Homo sapiens: one gene and its partners. The protein of the gene in region 2 purifies or fractionates together with the protein of the main gene of each other region. This does not show direct contact. Each region holds a gene or a part of one and is shown on either strand. Other genes may lie near its edges.

Region 1 (7,234 bases), on a different chromosome or scaffold from region 2:
ACTCCACACACTCGTCAGCGCACTCCACGTCAGCCCACTCCACACACTCCATGCCAGCCCACTCCATGTCAGCCCACTCCACACACTCATCAGCGCACTCCACGTCAGCGCACTCCACACACTCCACGTCAGCACACTCCATGTCAGTGCACTCCCAAGGCACAGGGAGGCAGGAGGAACCAAGAGAGCAGGAGCCAGTTTCATCAAGGACAAAGCAGCCCCGCCAGGGAGTACGGTGGGGAGCGGTTTTGGAAGGAGGCCTGCCGACTGGGGATGAGCCCGGGGTTGAGGTGAGGGAGGAGATGAGGACCTGAGACAGCATTCGTGGAGAGGGCAGCTGCGTGAGTGGCTGGTGTCCATCGAGACAGATGGGTATCTTCACTGAGAGCCCCCAGAGGCCAGCTGCAGGGTGAGCTGTGTCCAGCACTCAGGAGGGGTTTGGTTCAGCCAGGGATCATCTGAATTCAGGGCCCACAGCGTTTGGACCCTGCACCCAGCTCAGAAACCTCCTCTTGGCTGGGGGTTTTGGTACAGCCTCCTTGGGGGCCATCTGGCAACATCAGCACAATGGCCAGTGTAAGCGCCTTTGGCCCAGTGATTCCATGGGCAGGAGCCTCCTGCCAGGTGTCTTCGCACACGTGTGCATGTGTGTTGGGGCCAGGACACTCACTGGATGAGGCTGGAGCCCATGCCCTCCCTGGAGAGGGACGAGGTGGGTGGACGGCGGGTGTTGATACTCAGCAGCACTGTGGATCCCCAAAGTGCGGTTTCCCAACACGTGAGATGCAAGGGCAGATAGTGGAGACAGAGACTCATGCTTGCATGCACAGGCAGGCATCTGGAGGGCTCCCTCTCTGAGGGGTTTGGGGGTGGTGGTTTTTGCTTCCCACCTTATATCCTTTGAGTGCAAAGATAGCTTTTTAACCATGCGCCTGTGTGACTTTCAAATAAATAAAAACCCAAACCTTCCTAATGCTAGTCATGTTTAGACAATCCCATACCACTTGAGGGTGCTGCCAGGAGCGGGTACTGCTAGGAAGGGCTCTTGGATGAGCAACAGGTTCCCCGAGCAAGAAGGTTCCCGTCTGAAGGCAGACGGCCCACAGGGGATGGGCTCTTGTCTGTCATTGACGGCACAGGCTTAGAAATGGCAGGCTTTGTCTCAAGACCGCTGGGCCACCCAGAGGAGTGGCCAAAGCCCTCTGATCCGTTTCCATCCATGACATGAGGAGCTGCCTGCTCCCTGTGAGGGAGAGACAGTTGTCCCCTGACATTCGGTGCTGGGTGACCTCCCTTTTCCTGGCCGAGAGCTGGGCTGGGGTGTGAACCTGGGCAGGCTGGGCAGTGGACGTGGCCCTCCAAGGTTACAGGCAGCTCAACTCCTGGTTTTCTGTGACACCCTCCCAGGTCCTCAGGCCTGGCCAAGATAAAGGCTTTCCCCCCAGAGCTGGCCTGGGGACCTCAGCACCCCCTGCTGGTGCCACACCCCCTGCATTCAATTCACTTTAGGGCCCCCTGTTCCCGCCAACCAGACCTGTCCTGCCCCTGGGCAGCCCCCAGTCTCCTTCCATGTCAGGGTCAGCATGGAGCCTTCTGGAGTTCACAGCAAAAGCCTGGGTGGGTCCGGGCAGTGGCTGTGGGATCCTGCCAGCCTCTTCCCTGGCCAGTGGGGCTAGGCTGGCATGGTGGTGCCTCCTCAGGCCTCACTGTGGGGGCCTCTCCTTCCATCTACATTTGTGAGTAGAACCTACTCAGCCCCAGGAGTCACCCTCCAAAATCTCTCCATAGGCATCACTGTGAGGCCTCCCCAGTGATCTCTGTAGTGAGCTGAAGAGTGTACCCCCAAAACTCATGTCCACCTGGTACCTGCGTGACTTTATTTAGAAATAGGTTCTTTGCAGATATAATCACAAGACGATGAGGTTATCCTGGATTAGGGTGGGCTCTAAATCCAGATGAGTGTCCTTATAAGAAGAGACACAGGCACAGAGGAAAAGGCCATGAGGTGACGGAGGCGAGGAGGAAAGACCAGGAAGGGCTGCGGCCTCCACCGGAGGCTGGAGGAGGCTAGGATCCTCCCCGAGGGCCCTGGAAGGAGCTTCTGTCTCCACTTCAGCCCAGCAATACTGATCTGAGACTTCTGGCCTCCAGAACTGGGAGAGAATAAATTGCCGTTATTTTAAGCCCCCCAGTTCCGGGTACTTTGTTGAGATAGCTCCAGGAAACTGAAACACCTCCAGGGTCCTGCATTGCCGGCACTCAGCCATCTAAGAAGGCCCCTAAGCTCGGAGTGGCCACTTCCCGCAGGGCCAGTGCTGCCTCCTGTGACTGGCTGGGCATTTGTGGGTGAAGGCAGCAGGTAACAGCCAGTGTTGACAGAGCCCTGGCCTGACGCCAAGGGCTGCATACCCAGTTTCTTCCACACACTCATCCTGTGAAAGGGGAGTAATTAACCCACCACGGAGGAGGAAAGTAGGCCTGAGGCTGAAGGCCCTGTAACTGGCTGTGAGGCTCTGAACTCCAGTGGTGACCACTGCACCGTCCTGGCCCAGGGATGGGAGCTGGGTGAGAAGACAGACAGGGGCTCCAAGAGTCCGAGTGTCTACTCTGACCACCCAGACACCCCCTTGCTGCAGTCTTGGCCGCCAAACAGTTCAGTGTCCTGGGAAGCAGGCACTCAGGGCCTGCCCAGGATGCGCAGGCCTTATCACACAGAAGCAGGTGGCAGGGTGCCCCCAGGGACCCCACTGTCCCTACAATCCCCACACATCTTCTCCATGTGGGCCACCATCCTGGAAACGTGCTGTTCATTTTCGGATGTACCCCAAATGCACAGATTTCATCCTGGCCTGAGATGTCTGCCCATGGCCCAAACACATCAAAGTCCCAGGGGATCCAGATTCATCCTCAGGGCACCAGACATCCCCCAGCTCTGTTCCAGGGAAACAAGCCCAGCCCGCTTTCCCCAGCTTTAGGCGAGGCAGGGCTCCAGGGAGACCTGGAGCAACTTGGAGCAGCAGTCCTCTCTGTGGCTGACCGGCCTGCTGGGGGCAGTTTCCACCTCCTCCTGCAGCAGTGTGAGAGGCTGTCTGCTACCCCACTGATGCGGATGTCCAGGCTTGGAGCCGTCTTGGGACTCCATTGCCGTCCCTGCTGTCACTGTTCACCCTGCTTAGCGCATCTGCCCGGGCCCACTTTGTGGAAAACACTCATTTGACGTCAACCTGCCTGACACCCCATTCCAGGTCTTTCTCCTTTAGCAGGACCCAGATCCAGGCCACGTGAAGATGTTACAGCTGCCAGAGCTGGAAAGAAAAATATCAACCTGGAAGCCTCTGTAGGGAGTTAGCCACAAGGGTGGCAGGATTGGATACTGGCTGCAGGGAGCGAAATTCAACACCTTGACCAGAAGGGCGTCCAGGTTGGGGATGCTGAGGGGTTAGGAACTGAGAACTGGGCTCTCTTTGCACAGTTGCTGCTAAGAAGGGGCTGTCCATCCTCGAACAAAGATGACAAGTCCCCTGGCCCGGCCTAGGCTGGGGCACAGAGCACTGCTTTTCCTCCTGGTGATGAAATCGGGGTCAAGAATCTAACATGAGAACTTGGTTATAAGCCGGCGAGCCTCTCGCAGGTCCAGGGGTGCATCCACACAACAGCTGACCTCCGGGACCGGGCCCAGGGCTCCGCTGCGGCTGAAGGCCAGGGCCGCAAAGCGAACAAAGCCCGCAGGTCCCGCGGCAAGGGCCGAGGCGCGCGACCTGGAACACGCGGGGGCTCGGAGCTCTGGGCGGGCAGGTGTTTGCGCGCGGGGGAAGGGCAGACCGACCCCGGACAGACCCGTAGCCCAGCTGTCGGACCAGAACAGCGTTTAGTCTTCGGACCTTGGGGAAAACTACAGAGGCCTCAGTGCCGGTAGCGCGTCGGGGGTGCGGCTGTGGCCGGGGTGTGTGTGGGCGGCTGTACACCTGGCAGCAGCCCGCCAGCCCCTTCCCGCCAGGCCCCGCGGCGCCTCCGGACACGCCCCACGTGACTTCCCCGGCTCAGGGCTTCCCCGCCCAGCCGGCTGCGGTCCCCGCCCCGCCGCACGAGACTGGGACCTGAGAGCGAAATCCATCCCGTAAGACGGGAGCGCGCAGGCGCGAAGTGTGGCGGCCCGGCGCGGCGCTCCCGGCCTGCCCCGCGTGCACGCTGACGCCGCGCAGTCTCGTCCCCTGCCGCCGCCGTCGCCGCTGCTGTCGCCGCCGCCGCCGCCATTGGAGTCGACGCCTCCTCAGTGCGTCCGCGTCCCGGGCTCACCGCCGCTGCCGCCTCGCCAGGGGCCCGCGCGCCCAGCAGCCGCCGCCGCCGCCCGGCCGGCGCCCGGGGAATTGGCGGCGGGGCCCGGGGCCGCGCGAGCTAGGGTGACAGGCCCGGCCTCTAGGGGAGGCCCGAGCCGGCGGGCGCCCCGGCCCCGCGTCTAGTTGTTCATGAAGCATGTCGGCCACCAGCGTGGACACCCAGGTAGCGGGGCCGGGTTACAGGGGCCGCGGCCGGGGCCGAGGCGCGGGGTCTGGGTTGAGGTCCTGGGGCTGGAACGCAGAGCCCGGGGTCGCGGAGGCCGGGCCCAGGCGGGACCGGGGTCTCGGGGCCGGGGTCGCACGTGACCGCGCGTCGGGGCCGGCGGAGCTCGCGGCCCGTTGGAGACCAGTTCTCTGGTGAATAACTTTGTGTTTCCCTCTTCCCCCGGGTTGTGTGTACCCCACGTCCCGGCCTGCGGCGGTGCAGAGAACAAAAGGACAAGATAATAAAGGTGAGCGGAGTCCCGGGACGGCCGGCGCGGGCTGGAGTGGAGGAGGACGGGGAAGGAACGGTCCAGGAAGCTGCGTCTGGAACCGGAAACTTTCTCTCTTCCGCCAGCTTCAGGGAGATAAAACTTGAGGTTGTGCGACGATTCTGGGAGATTTGACAGGTCGAAGACAGGGGCTTCTCAAGAAGTGAATAAATGATTGCTCAGAGTAGTTTGGGCCCGTCTCTCCCCACCGCATGATCATGGATTTGCTTTGGGGAAGGGGAGGTAGGAGAGCCGGGTGGACATGGCCGCAGGGGTTGAGCGACTTGCCTTTTTCCGCCCAGCAGGGGCTGCTCTAGGAGAGGGGCAGTCCAAGGTTCTGCAGGCTAAGCTCCACATCCCCGGTAGTTGCAGCCCGTTTTCCAAGTCTGTTAGCATCTCCTGTGACATTATGGCTTGGGATAAACCCTCAGAGCGCACTCATGTGAAAACTGTTAAGTGACACTTCACGTTTACTTGGAACACTTTTTTAGCCAGTTTGTGTGTCAGCTCAGGTGTAACCAAATACGGTTCATCGTGTTTTAAGATTGGAAAAGGCCCAGCACTTTATTTACCTTTGCTTGCTTTTTCTGGCTGAGCATAATAACAGTGGGAAGGTAAGTGGTGTAAAAGGAAAACCAGTCTTGGGGCACCCAAATCACTGAGCCAAAGGGAGAAAGCTACGCTGAGAACTGCTGAGGGCAAACCTGCCTCCCATTCTATTCCTGAAAAAGATAGCTTCTAAGACAAAAAAAGTTACATACTTCCCCCACAGTTTGCCCACAAGGAAATTCCTGGTGGACAAAGGACAGAACTCAGAGTCATTCCTGCTCACTGAGATAAATGCTTATCTGATTGCTTCCTTTGGAAAGGCTAATCAGAAACTCGAAAGAATGCAGCCGTTTGTCTCTTATCTACCTATGACCTGGAAGCCCCCTCCCTGCTTCAAGTTGTCCCGCCTCTCCGGACCAAACCAATGTACATCTTACATTGATGGTTCTCATGTCTCCCTAAAATGTATAAAACTAAGCTGTCCCCCGACTACCTTGGGCACATGTTGTCAAGACCTCCTGAGGTTGTATCATGGGTGTGTCCTTAACCTTGGCAAAATAAATTTTCTAAATTAACTGAGACCTGTCTCAGATATTTGGGGTTCACTGTGGAGAGTCAGATAATAGCTCCCAACAGTCCTTCAGTTGCAGCCCCTTCCCTCCTAAGTTTTCTTCCCTCCGTTCTCCATACGTTTGGGCATACATTCTGCATTTGGGCTTTTGGAGGCTCCACTTCTTTTTGCCACACATAAGTCTTCTTAGACCATGTCAGTTTTCACCCTGGTTATGTGTTCCTTGCATTATGTGTTAACACTTGATTTGGTTAATCTCACCAAATTACGATTAAGCCTTTATTTAAAATTTATCCTAAATTATTGAAAGTTTCCCGTCCCCCTTCTAATTAGTTGTATAAACATCAGTTCTATACTGGTTGTACTCCTTTTAAAATTAAAGCATAATTTCTGCTAGAAATAGATGGAAATAGACTTTGCTAACTTTGCCTTCCAAGCTTAAAAGTAATCTTTTAAAATTTGAGGGTAATATTTTGCAACTTTTTGTTCTAGTACAAAATGGTTCGTTACATCAGAAGGATACAGTTCATGACAATGACTTTGAGCCCTACCTTACTGGACAGTCAAATCAGGTGAGTTTATTTTGTTAGCATATATTTGTTTTTAAGTTGGTTTTAATTGTTTTGTACCTTTACTGTCATTTCTGATTTTTAAATTATCCTAAACAACAAAGCAGCAGACTATAAAGTATTAGGAATGATAGACTGCTCATGAAGATGTGACTCCTGTTAACCTTGGGCATCAGTGGGGTGAAAATGATTTTCCCTGTGGAGGAGGCGGCATCCCACTGGGGCTGGGATGCAAACAGGTCTAGTTGGCTCTAGTGTTTGTGGGTCAGTGGTGTGTCTTGCCTTTGACGCAGTGGAGGTGTGTGTGTGTTTCTGAAGCTTCCTGGTTATTCTTAGCTCTGGATGATTGGAATTGTGGTCTGGGGAGGCAGCTAAGAGCTGGGCTGTGGAGCGACTGTGGAGCCAGAGGCCGCCTGGGTTTCAGTCCTTTTTTTGAGACAGCGTCTCACTCTTGCCACCCAGGCTGGAGCGCAATGGCGTGATCTCAGCCTGCTGCAGCCTCTGCCTCCCGGGTTCAAGCATTCCTCCTGCCTCAGCCTCGGGAGTAGCTGGAATTGCAGGCACCCACTACCACGTCTAGCTAATTTTTGTATTTTTAGTAGAGACGGGGTTTCACCATGTTGGCCAGGCTGGTCTCAAACTCCTGACCTCAGGTGATCCACCCGCCTCGGCCTCCCAGAGTGCTGGGATTATAGGCGTGAGGCACCGCGCCCAGCCTGGTTTCAATTTTAACTC
Region 2 (6,913 bases):
CCCATCCTCCCACAACAAGTACATCAGCTTTTTCCTTCAGTATGTCAACTTCTAGATTTTACTCAATCCATCAACAGTCTTCTAAAAATCTGAACAAAAATAAGCTGAACTTTAACAGATAAATTTTATGGTGTGTAAATAATACTTCAAAAAGCTATTGGAAATAAATAAATAAAGCCAGCATCCTGACTCCCAGGAGTCCTCAAAGGACAACTGAACTTTGATGAAGCCAGTAGAGACCAGGTTCTTGAGAAACCCAACTTTATCTCAACCCTCAAAAATCCTCACAGAATGTGAACTCATAGCCAAAAATCAAAAGTACATACAATAGCAAGGTATTATAACAAAGAGCTTCAGAAATAACAAATAGCAAAGTCTGACCTGCAAAGACTTCAGGTATTTGAATAAGATACAAAAATATAAAATAATATATTTAATATTTTTACAGAAATAAAAGAAAAGATTGGGTGTACGAGCAAGAAACAAGACCATAAGAAAGACCAAGCGAATTTGAAAAAAAAAAATAGAACTTGTAAAAATGCATTAATAAGTGGATTAAGAAACACATTAAACATAACTCAAAAAAAGAATTAAAATATATGTAAGTATAGTTTGTCAATGTACAAATAAAAAGTAAGATTTTTCAAGAAAATATTTTTTAAAAGAATTAGTTATTTGGAAGAGATAGATTAGGTAACAGATTAATGCTGCCAAAGAGCGAATTAGAGAACTGGAAGACAGATCTAAATAAATAATCATAAGGATTAATGCAGACATACAAGGAGCTAGAATATATGAACAACACATAAAATGTACTAGAAAGATATAATAAAGAGAATGTGGAAAAGGCACTATTTGAAGAGCTCAAGACTGAGATTTTCCAGAATAATTGGGTGACTACAAAACTTCAATCATGAAATTAAAAGCCCATTACCTAGAAAGAATTCTTACTTGTACACTATATAGTACTTGGCCAAGTTACAATGAAGGCGTTTTCTACTGTTTTTAGAGGCAATCAGGTTATGAAGGAACTATGGCACTTACATAACATTATATTTCTTGGGCTTCAAAAGCAGATAATATTATGAAAAACATTCTGCACAGTTTGCATTTTCCTCACTCACCAAATTCATAGGTTTTTTTCCAAATTACTTCACTGTTTTTAGTAAAAACTGAAACAGACTGGACTCTAGGTTTTAGGTAATGTTGAAATCCCTGGAGATCTTCAGTGTCTGGTACAATATTAGACACAGTAGTGATGGCATAAGAAAGGTTGTTGACTGACAACCAGCATGATCAGGTTAGCAATAATGGGAGATAAGGAAGTTTATTGAAAGTGACATCTGAAAGAAACCAACCTAACAGTGTCTTCCCAGACCTTGAAATAAAATTGGATTTAGCAAATATCATTCTAATACAGATGTCCCCCAACCACCTTACAGGAAAAGCTCAGGTTGTAGTAAGAATAATCTTAGCTAACATTTATGAATCACTTACTATTACCAGGCACTGTGCTAAGTGTAATAAGGAGAAGAAAAAAGGAATGATTTTAAATCCTACTCAACAAACTGTCTTTAGCCCTACATAACTGAAAACAATTTGCTTACATTCTCTAAATGCATCAGTGAATCCTACTGGTATGTTTCTATTATTAGTTGTAATACCAAAAAGTCTCACAGGTAAATAAATAAGTAAATAAATAAAATTATTTTGGCCTGGTGCAGTGGCTCACACCAGTAATCCCAGCACTTTGGGAAGCTGAGGCGGGTAGATCATCTGAGGTCAGGAATTTGAGACCAGCCTGGCCAAAGGTGAAACCCCATCTCTACTAAAAATACAAAAATTAGCCGGGCCTGGTGGTGGGCACCTGTAATCCCAGCTACCCAGGAGGCTGAGGTGGGAGAACCACTTGAACGTGGGAGGTGGAGGTTGCAGTGAGCTGAGATTGCACCACCGCACTCCAGCCTGGGCGACACAGCAAGACTCTGTGTTTACTTTAACAGAGAAGAGTAATCTCTCTCTCTCTCTCTCTCTCTCTCTCTCTCTCTCTCTCTCTCTCTCTCAGTATACATACATACATACATACATACATATATATATATATTTGAGACAATCTCACTCTGTCACCCAGGCAAAAGTGCAGTGGTACCATCATGGCTCACTGCAGCCTCCACTTCCTGGGCTCAAGCAATCCTCCCACCTCAGCCTCCTGAACAGCTGGGACTACAGGCATGTGCCACTATGCCCGACTAATTTTTTTTTTATTGTTTGTAGAGATACATTCTTGCTATGTTGCCCCGGCTGGTCTTGAACTCCCAGGCTCAAGCAATCCTCCTGCCTTAGCCTCCCAAAGTTTTGGGATTACAGGCATAAGCCACTGCGTCCAGCTGATAATTTTTAAAAAAACTTTTAAAAATTGACAAAAAGGTTGGGGTTGTTGAAATCCTTTTTTCTGAACACAGGAAGAAAATATATAAAACAAAATGAGAACAGGCACAGTGGTTCATGCCTGTAATCCCAGCACTTTGGGAGGCCGAGGTGGATGGATTCCCAGGCCGAGGTGGGTACACTCCAGCCTGGGCAACAAGAGCAAAACTTCATCTCAAAATAATAATAATAATAATACCAATGGAGGAATGGGTAAGAAAAATATTTCTTCATTTAACCTGCAGAAAGCTGTGAATCTACCAAATACAGCATAGTCTTGGCCTCAGGGCAGTGAGTTTCAAACTTTAGGGTACACCAGCATCACCAATAAGCTTATTAAAAATATAGATTCTTGAGCCCAACTGGAAGAATTCTGATGTAGCAGGTTTGGAATAAGTCCTAGAATTCTGCCTTTTTTGCAGGCACCACAGGTAATTGGGCAGGTGGTACAGAGTCCTCCTCCCAAAACTCTGTCTTAGGATAGAGACACAAGCCTTCCCCTTTTCTATGAATCCTGAGAATTGTGAACAGTTCTAGTGCAACCACAGAGGTAATCTGATTTACAAGGGTTCAGTTTGGTCTGGATCCTCTGATCTGGAACTATTATAGTTATCATTGTGATTATCAGAGAGACAGATTAGGGGCAGCATTATTTCCAGGCATGATGTAAACTGCTATTTATTATGATGGCAGCTTTAATAATTGATGCAAAAGTATGCATTAAAGAAATTATTTTCATATGTCTATCTACTCCTTCCCTGATTCACAAAGAAATTGGTCTCACCTTTTTATAGTTGTTATGGTAGTGGGCCATTTTATTTTGGTTTTCTACTTCAGATTCAGCTTCGAGAATGAGAAAGCATAGTTTGGGCAAAATAGATGTTTGTAACATTTTTTATTAACCTGAAGAGTGGGTGATCAATATGTTTACCTATTGCATAGCAGCCTGAAGCACCACATTGAGTGGCTAAAACCAGGAAGATGGAGAGAATATGTAAACATCTTTGGTAAAATACAGTTAAATTTACTGTTACTTTGAAGCAACCCTTTGAAGTATCCCTTAGCAACTGGTTCCTTAAGACAGAGATTATTAAGTGACAGATCCTAATTATTACTAAGACATAAGGTTTTATCATTTCTGTTTAATGTACGAACCACCTGCATTTGCTCTCATTCATTGAGTCAAACAGGAGAAGACATGAAATATATTTAACATCTACTTATTAAAATGAAGTCCCCCTGCCCAATGAATTTCATACAACAATGTTCACTCCAAAGAGTGAACTATCTTTCCCTATTTTTCTGCAGAACTTTTTGATGACTTTGCAAACCAGTCAACAATTCAGCACAAAGGCATCCAGAGTCACGCTGGCATGTTGTGACAGAATCGCACAATTACATGGGATCCATCCCACTCTGAAAATGCCCCGAACAGCGAACAGCACAGGTAAATCAAATCAAACGTCAGAGCCAGCACAGCCTGAGAGCGCCTTGAAACTCAGACTCCACAATCTATGGGGAAAGTGTCCTGCTGTGGCATGAAATAAATGAAACAGAAAATGATGGCAAGACTGCTAAGAACATCCTTTGCTTTGCTCTTCCTTGGCCTCTTTGGGGTGCTGGGGGCAGCAACAATTTCATGCAGAAATGAAGAAGGGAAAGCTGTGGACTGGTAGGTAAATGAAATGGAAGGACTGCTGCATGCAAACAGCCTCGGTACAGAGTTGGCCTGGCTCACTGCGAAGTTCCTAAGGGGAATGTCCATTCTCTTTCCTCCCTTTACAAATAAAGGAAGTTAAAGTGTGCAAATCGGCCAAACTCCCAGGCAGGGGTAGGCTTCTGAGTGACGGAGTTTCCCCCTGAAAAAGAGCTGAGCAGCCCCTCTTGGGCCTGATTCACTGTTCTCAGCGGGGCAAGGCTGGTAGCCACAGAAGTGGGATTGAGCTGACAGCTTCTGTGAGCTGGCAATTTCTTTTAATTACATCATGGCTTTTCCTAACAGAACACTTCCAACATCCTTTGAAAGACTGACAGAGTAAAGAAGGCAGATTATTTTTTTCTGAAAATGGAGCATGTGCTGCTCCTTATGAGAAAGAGAAGGGGGACCTGGTCACACACAGCACTGTTTGCCTAACATCGGTTTGTTTGGAAGCAGAGGCAGCTGTTGCCATGATTGGTACGTAGGCCACTGGCCTGTTGTACAGTGTCAAAGACATTAAATGCTGTGTTGCATTATAGTCATGGGTTCTCCTAAAGCTTTAACTACTTTTTCACCCTTTAATTGGGATATTTAGGTTTGCCATAATGGTTGGTGTCAAGCTTTTTGTGTAAACTTCAGGCTACAGAACACAGATATACTCAAGGCAGTAGTCAGTCTTTCCTCAGTTACTGAGCTCAACAGAGGTCTGTGTGGAGTTTTGAAAATATAAATATGAACGAAACATGGTTCCTACCCTCAAGGACCTCACAGTTATGTGGTAAGGGCATAGGTGGAACACTGGGGAACAGAGAGCCCAGAAAACTTCTCTAAGGATGTAATTTTTGAGCTAAGTTTTAAGAACAATTAAGAAGTAGCTGGAAAAAGAAGGGATGTGCAAGAGCATCTCAGGCCAATGAAGGAGCAATGAGGAGGTAGAGAGGCAAGAAGCAACATGGAAATTTGGGAGTTGCAAAGTAGTTTGGTATTGCTGGAACTTCAGGAGAATACAGGAAGATGACCGGAGGTGAGGTTAGAGAGGTGGGGACAGCCAAGGGGTCTGTGTGCTGAGCTACAAGGTTTGAACTTGACATTGAAAGGGAGCTATTGGAGGACTTCACGCAGGGGTGTGAATGGTCAGATTTGCACTTTAGGAAACCCATTGGCAGTACTATGAGGGCTGGATGGATGGGGAGCAGCCTAGAATCACTGAGACCAGGAGCACTTTTGCAGCATTACAGGTGAGAAGAGGTGTAGACCTGAGTTAAAGAAGCGGTCATGGAAATAGAAAGAAGGACATGCTGAGAAGACTTGGTGATGGATGGGCTGCAGCCAGTAGGAGAAAGGGAGATGTTAAGAAATAATTTTAGGTTGGCCAGGCGTGGTGGCTCACGCCTGTAAGCCCAGCACTTTAGGAGGCCTAGGCAGACAGATCACCTGAGGTCAGGAGTTCAAGACCAGCCTGACCAACATGGAGAAACCCCATCTTTACTAAAAATACAAAATTAGCCAGGCATGGTGACGCATGCCTGTAATCCCAGCTACATGGGAGGCTGAGGCAGGAGAATTGCTTGAACCCAGGAGGCGGAGGTTGTGGTGAACCAAGATCGTGCCATTGCACTCCAGCCTGAATAACAAGAATGAGACTCCGTCTCAAAAAAAAACAAAAAACAAAACAAGAAAGAAAAAGAAAGAAATAATTTTAGGCTTCTGCTTCTGAGACTGCATGAATATGTTCCCTAATAGTGTGGGATGAGCAGATTTGGAGCAAAATATTATAAATTTGGTTTCAAAAATACGGAGTTGGGGGTTAATGGGACATCTTTGAGTTTAGGTTTCTCTGGACCTCAGCAGAAAGGTCTGGGCTAGAAACAGACTGAGGACTCTTGAGTACATAATTAGAGACAGTCACCCAGGAAAAATGTTTAAAAGTACTAGCTCTCAACTGGTGTGCCACGGCACACTGATAGTTCACAAACCCTTCACTGGTGGGCCACCAAATTGTGATTGATATGGAAAATCATTTTTGCCACAAGTGAATGGACATATTACTTAGCAATGTCTGTTAGAGAGAATATAAGCAACTTGTTGCCAAGCTGCTAACATTTATTGAGAAAGGTAAGGAAAGAGACCATCAAGTCAGCACCAAAGAATAATTTCATGTTTCCTGCCACATGTGAGGACCTGACCCTGTAAGAAAGCATAAGCAGGGCAGGAAAGAGTTCACTTAAATTAAGTATAAGACCGAAGGGGACCAAGTGAAGAGTGTGCAGCTTTTACGGGTTTGTGACACTGTTGTATGGTAATAGTGTATATATTATAATGTTTGGTGCACTGTGAGTGTTTAGGGGTTAATGGTGGGGTTCATGCTATTAGAAAGTATTTGGCTAGATCAGTGGTTCTCAACCGAGGGTAATTTTGCCCTCAGAGGATTTTTGATAATGTCTGGAGATAATTTTGATTGTCACAACTTGGCAGTGCTACTGGCATCTAATAGGTAGAGGGCAGGGATCTTACAATGCACAGGACAGCTCCCACAACAAAGAATGATCGGCTGAAAATGTGAATAGAGCACACTGAGAAACGCTGAGCTAGGTAATCCAATAATGCCTTAATGCTGTCTTGGCTGAGCTACCTCTCCTCCCTGTGAGATATCCAAGGGAGATATACAAATGGAAAACAACAGTAAAGGAAGGAAAGGGCCTACTTAATTACTTGGTTTTAGCCCTGAATCTTCAAGGCAGAGTATTCGGATAAACTGAGCTGAGGAATGCAGCTTATGACAGGGGC
Region 3 (6,213 bases), about 88 Mb from region 2:
GAATTTTGTATTGTATATATTATTTCTACATAATTTTGTTAGATAATTATTTAGAAATTTTGCATCTATATGAATAAGATTGGCATGTAATATTTTCTCATGTTGGATTTTGGTATGTAAGGTTTATAAAAATTAGATGGGCAGGGGTATCCCTTTTAATTTTTTTTTTTTTTCCCCTTCCATGCTTTCATTAAGATTTTTTATTGGGGAGGAAGTAAATATTCCCTTTTACTGCCATTATGTTGGAAGTTGTGTACTGGTTCTGTTCTTTTACTAGTTACCCTAGAAGTCAGAAGTATTAATGTTTGCCAAAGTCTCAAGTTCATCAATACTTGTATCTTCTCCTTAACAATACATAGATCTTAAAACTCTTATTTGTCCCAAGCCTTATTTATGTTACTGTTCTTGTATATTTTAATTCTATTCTTTCTGCTTAATTTTAACTCAACAAGGTATTTCTTTTTACACTTAATGTTCATTTAAATTTACCCCACGTTTACTAATGTTTTTATTCTTCAGAGCTTTCATTTGTCATTAGTTAAAACTGAAATATTCTCCTCTTCTTTTTCTTTATCATTTTGAGATTCGTGAGGCTCTTTGGAGCTCTGGATTTGTAGGTTTCTTTTACTTGTTATTGAGAAATTCTCAACCATTATTTTTTCCTCCCAGATATTCCCTGTGCCCCAGTCTCTTTTAGATTCTCATATTTAATTAAACATATTACTTCTCCGTATATCTTCCCTGTCTTGTAAACATTCCACCTTTTTGACTTTTTATGCTGTATTTTGGATGATATCTTCTGATGTGTTTCCAGGCCAGCAGTCTTACTGTTGCAAATTTATTCATTGGGTTTTCAATTTCAGTTATTTTTTCCATTTCCAGGAGTTCTTTTTGTATTTTTTAAAAATCCAGGTCTGTATTTTCCTTGTTATATGTTTCCTGCAGATATTTTCAAGCTTATTTTCTAGACATATTAAGCATAATTATCTTTATAGTTTGTGTTTGATAAATCTAATATCTTAAATTTTTGTGAGTCTGTTCATTGTCTTTGTAAGCTCTTACTCAGGGTATGTTGTGTCTTTGTGTGCTACTTTTTCTCTTTGAAAAGTTATTTGTAGGGATAATTTGAGGCCTAGAATATAGGTTCTTATTTGAGAGGGAATTTGTGTGTGTGTTACATTCATGTAATACCTTACATTCATGACTTGTGGTTTGTTGGGCCACCAGGTGATGATAATTTGGACTGCAAGTTCATGCATGGCTTCATTCTTTACCTGAGAATATAGTCCTTTGGAGTCTCAGTTTACTGTACACAGGGAGATGGTATCTTATTACACTAAACTTTGGGTGGGCCCTAGGACCTGATTTCTGATCCATTCCCTTATGATACCATCAGAACCAAAGTTCATATATTCTTGTGTTGGCAAATGTTTTCAGGGCAAAAATGACTTTTGTCTTCTACTTGACTGTCCGGGTTCCCACTTTTCTTTCAGTTTTAGCCTAGGGATTACTTTCTTGGCAGCTTTTCAATGCTTTTAGTGATTTTTTTTAAAAAAAACAAACTATCATTACTTAGTTGCTTTCATTGTAGAGGTTGATCTGAATAACATAACTGTTTCTAGAAATAGACATCATTATTAAAGAAAGTAAATTAAGATTAGTAATCTGGTAGAAATGACTGTTTAGAGGGATGTTTTGATATTTTCATATATTTGATGACTTTCTCAATAAATCTCTGAAATATAATGTAAAAAATTATAATTGGTTGAATTGTATTAATAAATTTCCCAAATGTGTAGAGCTTCTGTAGTGAATTTACTATGTGTAAGCTTTTGTCTCTGTCAGACCTTAAATTGTTTATTTTTAGTGGATTGAATAGGACTAAAGTCTCATAGCCTTTTAAAAATGTGTGTCTATTTTGTCAGTGTGGGGGTGGGGTTGGGATATATCTTGAAGCTGCTTAGAGTAATGAAACCTTAGAAACTTTGGGCTAAAACTAATAAATCTAATTTACTCACTATGCCAGAAGTGTTCATTCATTATTGCTTAGTGATATATATTGCATGTTCAAGCTGTTTTTAGATTGGGATTTCATAGTTTTGATCATAGTAATAAACAGAGAAAAATATCTTGGATCTCTTTTTGTGTTTATTTCTCTAACTGGCTTCCAAACACGGTCACGACTACTTGTTGCACATTGTTAATCTACCTTTGTGACACAGTTTAGAGGCTAGTCTTTTAGGGAAGTATTCAAATGATCTGTAGGTTTGGTGTGAGCTTACCCAGGAATGTTTCTTTTCTTATCAGGTAAAAGAGTGAGGCTGGGCCCAAAGAAAGATCGTTATTGTATTGGTTGATAACCAGCTACTAGTTAACAACTTAAGGAAGTATAGTTATTTGAAGACGACCAGTCAAGCATAGGAATCATATCATCTTCCACCTTGCCTCTTTTTGCTTACTAATTTAAAATGCATAAATATATAGTTAACCTGATACAAATTCATTGGTTCTATTACTAGAGGATAATAAGGAATGAATGATTTGTCTTATTTTAGTGTTTAATTATAGCAAATCCACCAAATCCACTTTACATTTTACATCTGCTTTTTTTTTTTTTTACTTACAGTAGACCCAAATGATTTGTACATTGTAGAACCCCTCAAGTTTTCTCCAGAAAAGAAGGTAATTGTTTATTTCTTTTTAAGTTTATTGCTATGTTTTGTGATAATAAATGAAGAAAAGAGGTTGAAAGGTTTAAGGTAATTACCTTTAAGTAGTCCTTAACTGAATGTTTATTTTCTATCATGATAATGTTGTAAATAAATATTAACAGGGGTCAGCAAGCTGTGACCCACAGGCCATATGGGCCATGAGCCAGATAGGTTTTCTCATTTTTAAAGAGTGATAAAACAGAACAGCATGCAAGAGAGAAAATGTGTGACCTGCAAAGCCTAAAATATTTACTGTCTGACCCTTCACAAAAAAAATTTGTTGATCCTTGGATGATTGTCATTATTTATTACCGAATGCATGCCAAGCACAGAGCATGCACCGTTCCTCTAATCCTCACCACAACCTGAAGATGATGTTATCCTCATTTTTTTTTTTAATAAAAAAACAGCAACTCAGAATGTACTTAGGATTTTTTGGCTTCAAAGTCTTTGCTTTTTCATTTTGCCTTTCAAATTAAGTTATACTAATTTTAGTTGTAATTTCATCTAGGTGAAAGAACTTGGGCTTTGTAGGCAAATAGCCTAAGATTCATTCTCAACCCGGCTGCTTACTACATTGTAACTTGGGCAAAGAACCAAACATCTGAACCTTGCTTTTCTCATTTAAGAATCAAGGATAAAATACCGACCTTTCAGGGTTAATAGCTGCCATAATACATGAAAGCAACCTGTATGCTCTCTGGCAGTTAGTAGGTATTCAGATATTAGTATCACTCCCTAAACCTATATTCATAGGTAGCAGGTAAGCAATTTAAAGAGTTTTGATTCAGTAGTATTTACAAAATGGGAAGATGATGCTAGTATCTATATAGAACATAACAATGTATGTGTTCTGTGCTGTTTATAATACTGTTTTACTTTTCACCAGGAGGTGGCACTTCTCTATTAGCTCAGCTCTCTAGGTGTTTGATAAGGTTACTATGGGAAGTATCATTACTAACTTTTCTTTTACTTGTGTTGTAGAAGAAGCGCTGCAAGTACAAAATTGAAAAAATTGAGACCATAAAGCCTGAAGAACCATTGCACCCCATAGCCAATGGCGACATAAAAGGAAGAAAGCCCTTTACGAACCAGAGAGATTTTTCTAATATGGGAGAAGTTTATCACTCTTCTTATAAAGGTCCTCCATCTGAAGGAAGCTCAGAAACTTCATCACAGTCAGAAGAGTCCTATTTTTGTGGCATTTCAGCTTGCACAAGTCTGTGCAATGGACAGTCTCAAAAGACAAAAACTGAGAAGAGGGCTTTAAAACGAAGACGATCTAAAGTCCAAGACCAAGGAAAATTGATAAAAACTCTAATACAGACTAAGTCGGGATCATTGCCGAGCCTGCATGACATAATCAAAGGAAACAAAGAGATCACCGTGGGAACATTTGGTGTTACAGCAGTCTCGGGACATATCTAAAATTAATTGAACTTTTCATACAGAAGACTTTTTTGTTGTTGTTCTTTGAAGAACAGTCTGTAGTATTTGAAGGGTTTGGGGGAGGGAGAAAATATTAATGGGAAAGGCATTCAGAAATTATGGTTTCTACCTTTTTAAAAAGTAGATGGGATTGTGTCAATCTTGGTTAATGAGCTACAGTTTTACAAAGCTGATCACTTCCTATAAGGACAATGGTAGACATTTTATAAAGATGTTTTTTCACAAGATTAATTACTGGGACAAAAGTAATTTGGAAGCCCAGTTCCTTAGGTGGGATAGGAATGAAAGCCTAAACCTCTTCCTTTAGCTTTGTTCCTATTTCTTGCACCTTCCCATATTTATGTGCCTTTTGTCTATTTATAATGCCACTGGAAGAGGAGGGATAACTTTTTCTGTTATTTGATTTCTTTTATAACTTTGTTAGGTTTTTGAAGCTGCAAACACTACAATGCTTTGAGGGGGTCTGTGCCTGAAGCTCAGGAGTGTGGATCAGACAGTCTAAAGATCCTAAAAACTTGCCAACTGGATCTTTGTTTAGCAAACTCACTGGAAATGAACACTTAATGGAATTTTTAAGTCTGTTCTGTTAGGTAGATGGTGATGCTCTTGTTATTTTCACTTATTCAGACTGGATTACTTCTTACTTAGTTACTAACTCAATGAGGAAAAATCCCTACAGGATCTTTTTTTGCAAACAACTGATATATGCAGACAAATTTTTGACAAATTCACCTTTTAAACACACTTAACCATTTGTGAAGGTTTTCTTTAGCTTACATTTTAAACATACACAATAAACACTAATCCTCCAAACTTTCACTGTTTTTATTAGTATGAATATAAAATTTGAAGGTTTGGCCAATTAGTACAAGTCTCATGATATAATCACTGCCTGCATACATATGCACAGATCCAGTTAGTGAGTTTGTCAAGCTTAATCTAATTGGTTAAGTCTAAAGAGATTATTATTCCTTGATGTTTGCTTTGTATTGGCTACAAATGTGCAGAGGTAATACATATGTGATGTCGATGTCTCTGTCTTTTTTTTTGTCTTTAAAAAATAATTGGCAGCAACTGTATTTGAATAAAATGATTTCTTAGTATGATTGTACAGTAATGAATGAAAGTGGAACATGTTTCTTTTTGAAAGGGAGAGAATTGACCATTTATTGTTGTGATGTTTAAGTTATAACTTATTGAGCACTTTTAGTAGTGATAACTGTTTTTAAACTTGCCTAATACCTTTCTTGGGTATTGTTTGTAATGTGACTTATTTAACGCCTTTTTTGTTTGTTTAAGTTGCTGCTTTAGGTTAACAGCGTGTTTTAGAAGATTTAAATTTCTTTCCTGTCTGCACAATTAGCTATTCAGAGCAAGAGGGCCTGATTTTATAGAAGCCCCTTGAAAAGAGGTCCAGATGAGAGCAGAGATACAGTGAGAAATTATGTGATCTGTGTGTTGTGGGAAGAGAATTTTCAATATGTAACTACGGAGCTGTAGTGCCATTAGAAACTGTGAATTTCCAAATAAATCTGAACACTTGTCTTTATTAATTACTGGCTCTTCTGTCTTTTAAAAGAGAACTCAGAAATTATTAATCTTTGAACAGAGATTTAAGTTTTTGCCACTTTTAAAGTTAAATATAGCAGCATTCCATTCAATATTGATCACATTTCAGCCAACTACAAAATGATGGTACTTTTACATAAACATTTTGCTCCCTATGCTATCAGAATTTCAGTTTTTCATATCTAAATACAGCATAACATTTTGTAACATGAGGTTTATTTTTTCCTCTCTCACATAACTACATGAGAAAAAAAACTTAAGTGAAAATAATAGATTTATGCCTATTAAGAAGCAAAAACTATATAGATATTTATCCAATGGGATTTTTAGTGTTCCCTGATGATCAACCTCATTTTATTTCTTCTAATGTTAAGTAAAGCATTAAAACAGTATGAAATAAAAGGAAACTAGGGAATTGGTAAGAACAAGGATGCAAAGTAAAACAATTCTTTTAATTGAATTTTTAAAAACATTAAAGTTGTGG

The links. The genes of interacting proteins can lie anywhere in the genome.
Region 1: the proteins of DNASE2B (region 2) and YTHDF1 purify together in Homo sapiens (affinity purification with mass spectrometry; 3 studies listed by BioGRID and IntAct, with this or other methods). This does not show direct contact.
Region 3: the proteins of DNASE2B (region 2) and SUCO purify together in Homo sapiens (affinity purification with mass spectrometry; 3 studies listed by BioGRID and IntAct, with this or other methods). This does not show direct contact.

Annotation. Positions count from the first base shown.
Region 1 is NC_000020.11:63,213,132-63,220,365, reverse strand, and holds the start of YTHDF1 (YTH domain-containing family protein 1), read left to right. Parts: upstream 1-4,234; 5' UTR 4,235-4,473; coding exon 4,474-4,500; intron 4,501-4,764; coding exon 4,765-4,789; intron 4,790-4,806; exon of another isoform or gene 4,807-4,918; intron 4,919-6,422; coding exon 6,423-6,502; intron 6,503-7,234.
Region 2 is NC_000001.11:84,394,591-84,401,503, forward strand, and holds the start of DNASE2B (deoxyribonuclease-2-beta isoform 1 precursor), read left to right. Parts: upstream 1-3,893; 5' UTR 3,894-3,974; coding exon 3,975-4,099; intron 4,100-6,913. UniProt on the Homo sapiens protein: Hydrolyzes DNA under acidic conditions. Does not require divalent cations for activity. Participates in the degradation of nuclear DNA during lens cell differentiation.
Region 3 is NC_000001.11:172,606,121-172,612,333, forward strand, and holds the end of SUCO (SUN domain-containing ossification factor isoform 1 precursor), read left to right. Parts: intron 1-2,626; coding exon 2,627-2,682; intron 2,683-3,695; coding exon 3,696-4,139; 3' UTR 4,140-5,713; downstream 5,714-6,213. UniProt on the Homo sapiens protein: Required for bone modeling during late embryogenesis. Regulates type I collagen synthesis in osteoblasts during their postnatal maturation.